2 separate regions of the Homo sapiens genome follow, and region 2 is linked to region 1. Evidence: fine-mapped expression QTL. A gene starts in region 1. The other region holds a variant in brackets. All regions are shown on one strand. Distances are between the middles of the regions.

The links. PIP is the estimated chance that this variant, and not a neighbour inherited with it, causes the effect. A credible set is the group of variants that fine-mapping cannot tell apart.
Region 2: its variant is the best candidate, but not a certain one, in a credible set for the expression of GALNT17 in sigmoid colon (GTEx, PIP 0.62).

Annotation. Positions count from the first base shown.
Region 1 is chr7:71,130,514-71,133,418 of GRCh38, forward strand. It overlaps GALNT17 (polypeptide N-acetylgalactosaminyltransferase 17), which reads left to right and starts at 1,631. Exons shown (of 11, transcript NM_022479.3): 1 at 1,631-2,527. The coding sequence starts at 2,290.
Region 2 is chr7:71,269,806-71,272,710 of GRCh38, forward strand. All of the region lies in intron 1 of GALNT17 (polypeptide N-acetylgalactosaminyltransferase 17), which reads left to right. Among named protein-coding and RNA genes, the nearest start is that of MIR3914-2, 36 kb to the right of the region's middle. The variant A/G (reference allele first, on the strand shown) is at 1,477.

The DNA.
Region 1 (2,905 bases):
AGTCCTGCGGCTGAGTGAATGTTCAAAAATTATTTTTGCAGAAGCTTCCATTGATTGTGCTAGCTCCATCTGTAGTGTGGTTATAATAACACCCAACTCAACTGGATACTCCATGAGATGCTCAGTAACCCAAGTTTCTTCCCACACAGCCTCTCTCTTGCCTAACATGTGTGGCTAAAAATCATCCCTTGGGCCTTTTTAACTGTTTTGTGTCCACTTTCAGGTAGATTTTACAAAGCATGCGCCCTGAGGACCCGATTGCACCCAGGCAGAGAATTCCAAGGGAATGAAATAAAAAGACTATTTTTTTGCATATACATTTCTATGTTAAAAATCAAAACTTAAAATAATACACAGGCAAAAACAAAACAAGAAACCAAGCCCCAGAAAAAACCAAAACAACCGCAAAAACAAAAACAAAAACTTTAATGAGATCAAAATGATGAGGGGAAAACGATCAGCTCCATTTAGCTTTGCTGCCCGATTTTTATTAGTTGGCGGCCTGATTTCTATTTTAGACCCAAGGAATTAAATGGATCAACCGGGGTGGGGGGGCGTTGAATTCCAGTATTTCGAGTTCCTGGGTTTTGGGAAGAGGAAGAGGTAGTGGAAAACCAGGAGCCAAATGAATATGCTTCTTATAATAAAATTTGAACAGAGCAGCGGGTGGGCCTAGAAGCAGTGACTGGGGAGGTTAGAATTCTTGCACGCAGAGAACCCCCCCAAGCCCGCTCACGCCCGGCCTGGCTCCGAAGGTCTCAGAATCCGAGCCTCCAGGCCAGATTTTCCCTCTAGCCATTCCTGGCCACGCAGCGCGGAGCCGCGAGCACACAGAAAAGGATGTCTTCATCGCCAACCGGGATGGAACGAACCCGCCCGCTCAGGGAGTACTGAGAACTAAAGGGTCCCTCCAGCGCCGGCCGCAGCCAGCATGCCTTGACTGCCTCCATCCCGCGCGGTCCCCACTCTCCAGAAGCCCCCGCCCTGCCCGGGTGCGCGCGCGCACGAGTCGGCGAACCGGGGAGCTGTGCGCTCGGCAGCCTGCGGGCGGCGGCGGCGGCCGCCGACAGCCTCTCGGGGACAGGGTGGCGAAGAGCGGCGGAGGAGGAGCTGGCGCCGCCGCCGCTCCCCTCGGGCCGCGCCCCGCCCTCCGCCGCCACCTGCGCGTCCCCTCCGGGCTCCTCAGCTCCGGGGCTGTGTGGCTCTCGGTGCCGCAGCGGCGGTGTCACCGCGTCCGCCAATTGGGAGACTCGGCGTTTTGGCTCCCGGGGGCGCGGGACGAGCCGCGCGGCCGGATCTGGCGAGCGGAGGGTGATTCGGCACGCGTACCTCCCCGCCGCGCTGCCCGCGACGTTTTGGGAGGGGGTAGAGAACTGCTGTGACTTTTGAGGTCCGACTCCTTCCGGCCAGCCTCGCGACGCGCCAGCTCCGAGACAGGCCGGTGTGCCCTGAAGGCCCCGAAGGCTCTCGGCGCGGTTTGGGGGCTTGGAACGTGTCCGGGAGCCGGCGGCGCTGTGAGCGCTGGTGAGTTTGCCGGCGGGGTGGGGTGGACTCCGCGCGGGGGGCGGAGAGGACGTAGCGCTCGGCCCGGCGCCCGCCCCCTAGTGCTGCCCCCACTTTGAGAGTAATTGAGACTTGAGCGTGACTGCGGAGCCTGGAGGATGCGGGCTCCCCGAGCGGGCTTCCCCTCTGCCCGGCGCGATGGAGCGGGTCGGTGAGCGGAACAAAGGCGCCTGCCCGGGGGAGCGGGTCTTCCGCTGAAGAGCGCGGGTGGCGCGCCGCGACGGCCGCCTGCGGGCCAAGGTGGGAGGCTGTGCGGCCCCAGGCGCGGCGCGCTCCGCCGTGGGCGGGCGGCGATCCCTGAGTCCGGCACCTGTGCGCCGCTCCCTCTGTGCCTCCCGGGCAGCCCCGCCTGCCGGCCTCGGAGTCCGCGGCGCCGGCGGCTAGAGGTCCAGAGGCGAACCACTTGCTGGTGCAGAAGAGAAACCCTCAAATCCCTGGCCTTTCGCGGAGACGCCTGGACGGGGCCGTGCGCCGTGGACTGAGCAGGCGTCTCGGGGAGCACTTCTGCAGAGCGAGGACTTCCATGTGAGCGATTCCGTTCTCCCCACCACCAATCCGACCTCCCAGCCGTCTCCGCCGCCCGAGCATCCTTGAGGTGGGACGAGCAGGGGCTTGGATCCCTGCCGGCCGTCTGGTGTGTGAGGCTTGCACGGCCCCTGGCTGCCCCGCGCCTCGCCGGAGCCCGAGGGGGCGCAGGTCCGGGGCGAGGGCCGGCCGGGCTGTTTGATGGCTTCACTGAGAAGAGTCAAAGTGCTGTTGGTGTTGAACTTGATCGCGGTAGCCGGCTTCGTGCTCTTCCTGGCCAAGTGCCGGCCCATCGCGGTGCGCAGCGGAGACGCCTTCCACGAGATCCGGCCGCGCGCCGAGGTGGCCAACCTCAGCGCGCACAGCGCCAGCCCCATCCAGGATGCGGTCCTGAAGCGCCTGTCGCTGCTGGAGGACATCGTGTACCGGCAGCTGAATGGTAAGGACGCACGCCGGCGCCTCCGGGGCTCGACGCGGGCGGGCCGGGCACAGGGTGAGCCCCAGGGTCCTTGCGCGCTGCGCCCTGTGCCTGGGAGCCGGCACACCCTGGCTCCCGCGCGCTCCTTCTTACCCTTCCTGCCCCGTTTCGGGCAGATGGCCGGGGCTGCTGGAAAGAACAACTTGCCTGATTCTTTTCTGTGCCCCACCTGCAAATTTGGTTTTATCCTGGAAACATGTCAGTACAGTTGGCTCCCGGTCCCCGCGTGCGGACTGGAAATCATTCCCTGGCGACTCCAGCCCGAGCGCAGAAACTAGTGGAGGGGCCACATGGGACTGGAGGCGCGCGGGCAGACGTGTAGGAGGAAATAGTCTTAGA
Region 2 (2,905 bases), 140 kb after region 1:
TGATAGCATGGCTGGGGGAGGTGATGGAAGACGGATGGAGCCCTTGCCTTTGTCCCCCACAGATAAATTTGTTGTAAAACCTAACAAGAGCACAAAGCAGGGGATAGACTCAGGAAGAGAGATTAATACACTCTCTGAAACGCTTTGTACTGATTTACAGGCTTTAGGAAATATTTTCATGAGTGTGTGTGACACCTCTCTCTCTGTCTAGCACATAGTATTCATTTATAAACCTACCTCCCTGCTGCCCTACACATTTAATAAATGTGCTTTAAACTCATTTACTCACCCCCAGCAACCTTATGAGTAGTTACTATTTTTAGCCCCGTTTTACAGAGAAGCAACTAAAGCACAGAGAGATTGAGAAACGTGTTGAAGGGTGCACAGCACATGTGGAGGAACTGTGATCTGCACTCAGACCTTCTAGTCCCTGGGGTATCTCACTCTCCCCCCTTGTATCTCCTCTATCTCTCAATTTTTTATTATAGAATGCAGATCACGAGGTCAGGAGATTGAGACCAGCCTGGCCAACATGATGAAACCCCGTCTCTACTAAAAAAATAACAAAAATTAGCTGGGCGTGGTGGTGGGCGCTTGTAATCCTAGCTACTCTGGAGGCTGAGGCAGGAGAATCATTTGAACCCGGGAGGCAAAGGTTGCAGTGAGCCGAGATTGCACCATTTTGCCCCAGCCTGGGCGACAGTGCGAGACTACGTACCCTCCCCACCCCACCAAAAAAAAAAAAAAAAAAAAAAAGAAACGAATTTTCTAAACATATATAAGGTAAAGAGAATAATATAATGGACTTAATGTATGCATCACTTGGCTTCAGCAATTCTCCTTTTATAAAATGCATTCCAAACCCTTACCCTCTTCTGCCTCTTTCAGCAAATTTGTTTGAGGTGGTGGATGTTTGCTGAGTGGACGGATGAAAAAAAATAGTTGAAGAGTAATTGCCATTTGATACAGAACAGAAGAGCTTAGCTTTGGTTTAAGCTGTTCATTTCCCTCCCACAGTCTGAAGTTCAGCTGCAGGAAAAAAAAATAAAAAAGAAAGAAAAGTAATTTAAGTAATTTAAATTCTGCCTGCTGACTTAGTTTTGTCCTCATCTTATCTGACCTTATTTAATCAGAGAAAAAAAAAAGAAGAAAAGAAAAGAAAAAAAAAGACTGGGAAAGCGTTTTCTAGGAATTTCATCATGACCCTTTAAACACATCTTCCATTTACACTTATATAATTGTTTCATACGGGATAGTGTTAATAATACCAAATTTCATTCCTAAAGCAAGCTGACAAAAGCATTTAAAGACTTGCTCATTCCAAATGTGTTAGAGCAGCTGAGAATCACGATCTGGTGCCAGTTCATTTGCTTTCAATACTTCCTGCTTTTGGGTGCTGCATATTTTCTTTACAATAGCCCATAGTTAGGGCCATATCCATACACCCCAACTCCAGATTCCTGTCACGCGCCTTCC[A/G]GTGCAAGAAATGATCATGCTTTAGGGTGCACGGGGCACAGTCTAGCATTTTCCTTGCTTTCCACATCAGGGTGATGATGCTCAGAGATGTAGAAGAGCTCCCAAAGGGGTGGCACTGACCAGTGGCCACGTGGCTCCCTGGGCCTGTTCATCCATCCCGGTTTGTTCTGAGATAACCTCATGTCCAGGAAACAGCCTTGGCTAACGTGCCTAGGAGCAGTTTTTGAAAGAATCTGAGCTCACGGAAATGAAGTAAAAAATCTCTGGCACTCATTCAGGTTTTTTATTTAAGATTTATTAAAGGATAATTTACAGGCGATAACATTCACCCTTTTTGGGTGTACAGTTTGATGAGTGTTGGCAATGGATATGTAGCTGTGGATTTACCACCACAGTTAAGATGCAGAATAATCCCATTTTGTGGTCAGTCTCCAACTCATCCTTAGCAATCACTGATCTGTTCTCTAATTCTTCCTGTCTTTTTTATTTAGTGGTGGGGACAGGGTCTCACTCTGCCTCCCAGGCTGGAGTGCAGTGGCACGATCACAGTTCACTGCAGCGTCGACCTCCCAGGCTAAAGCGATCCTCCCGCCTCAGCCTCCCGAGTAACTAGGACCACAGATGGGTGCCACCATGCCCAGCTAATCTTTTAATTTTTGTAGAGATGGGGTCTCCCTATGTTGGCCAGGCTGATCTCAAACTCTTGGGCTCAAGCAGTCCTCCTGCCTCGGCCTCCCAAAGTGTTGGGATTACAGGCATGAGCCACTGTGGCCAGTTGTCCCCTATTTCTATGGTTTTGCTTCTCTAGACTGTCATACATTGGAAATGGAATCATGCAGTATGTAACCTTTGGGGCCTGGCTTCTTTCACTTGAATGATTTTGATACATGCTATTCCATGTATTGGGAGTTTCTTTCTTTTTTACTGTTAAGTAATTTCCGAAGTATGGATGGACATTTGGGTTGTTTCCAGTTTGGGGGAATCATGAATAAATCTTCTATTAAACATTCATATACAGTCATGTGAACATATGTTTTCATTTACCTTGGGTAGATACGTAGGAATGGGATTCCCAGGTATCATGTGGTGAGCGTATGTTTCACTTTGTAAAAAAACGCCAGCCTGTTTTCCAAAGTGGCTCTACTATTTTGCATTCTCACAGCTATGTATCAGGCAGAGTTCAGGTTGCTCCACATCCTTGGTGACACTTGGTATTGTCAGGTATTTTTTTAAGCCATTCTAGTAGGTGTGTAGATGTCATGCAGGCTTTTGTACATGGAAGGGCAGGAATGTCTTGGGGGAAAGTCAGCCTCAGTTACTGCTCCCATAAAGCTCTTTCTCCTGCAGCCCTTCAACCTGCGCTTCAGACAATCGACAGCAGGATTCCCTGTTTAGATTCACTTTGTGCCAACAACCTGTGAGGCTTGGC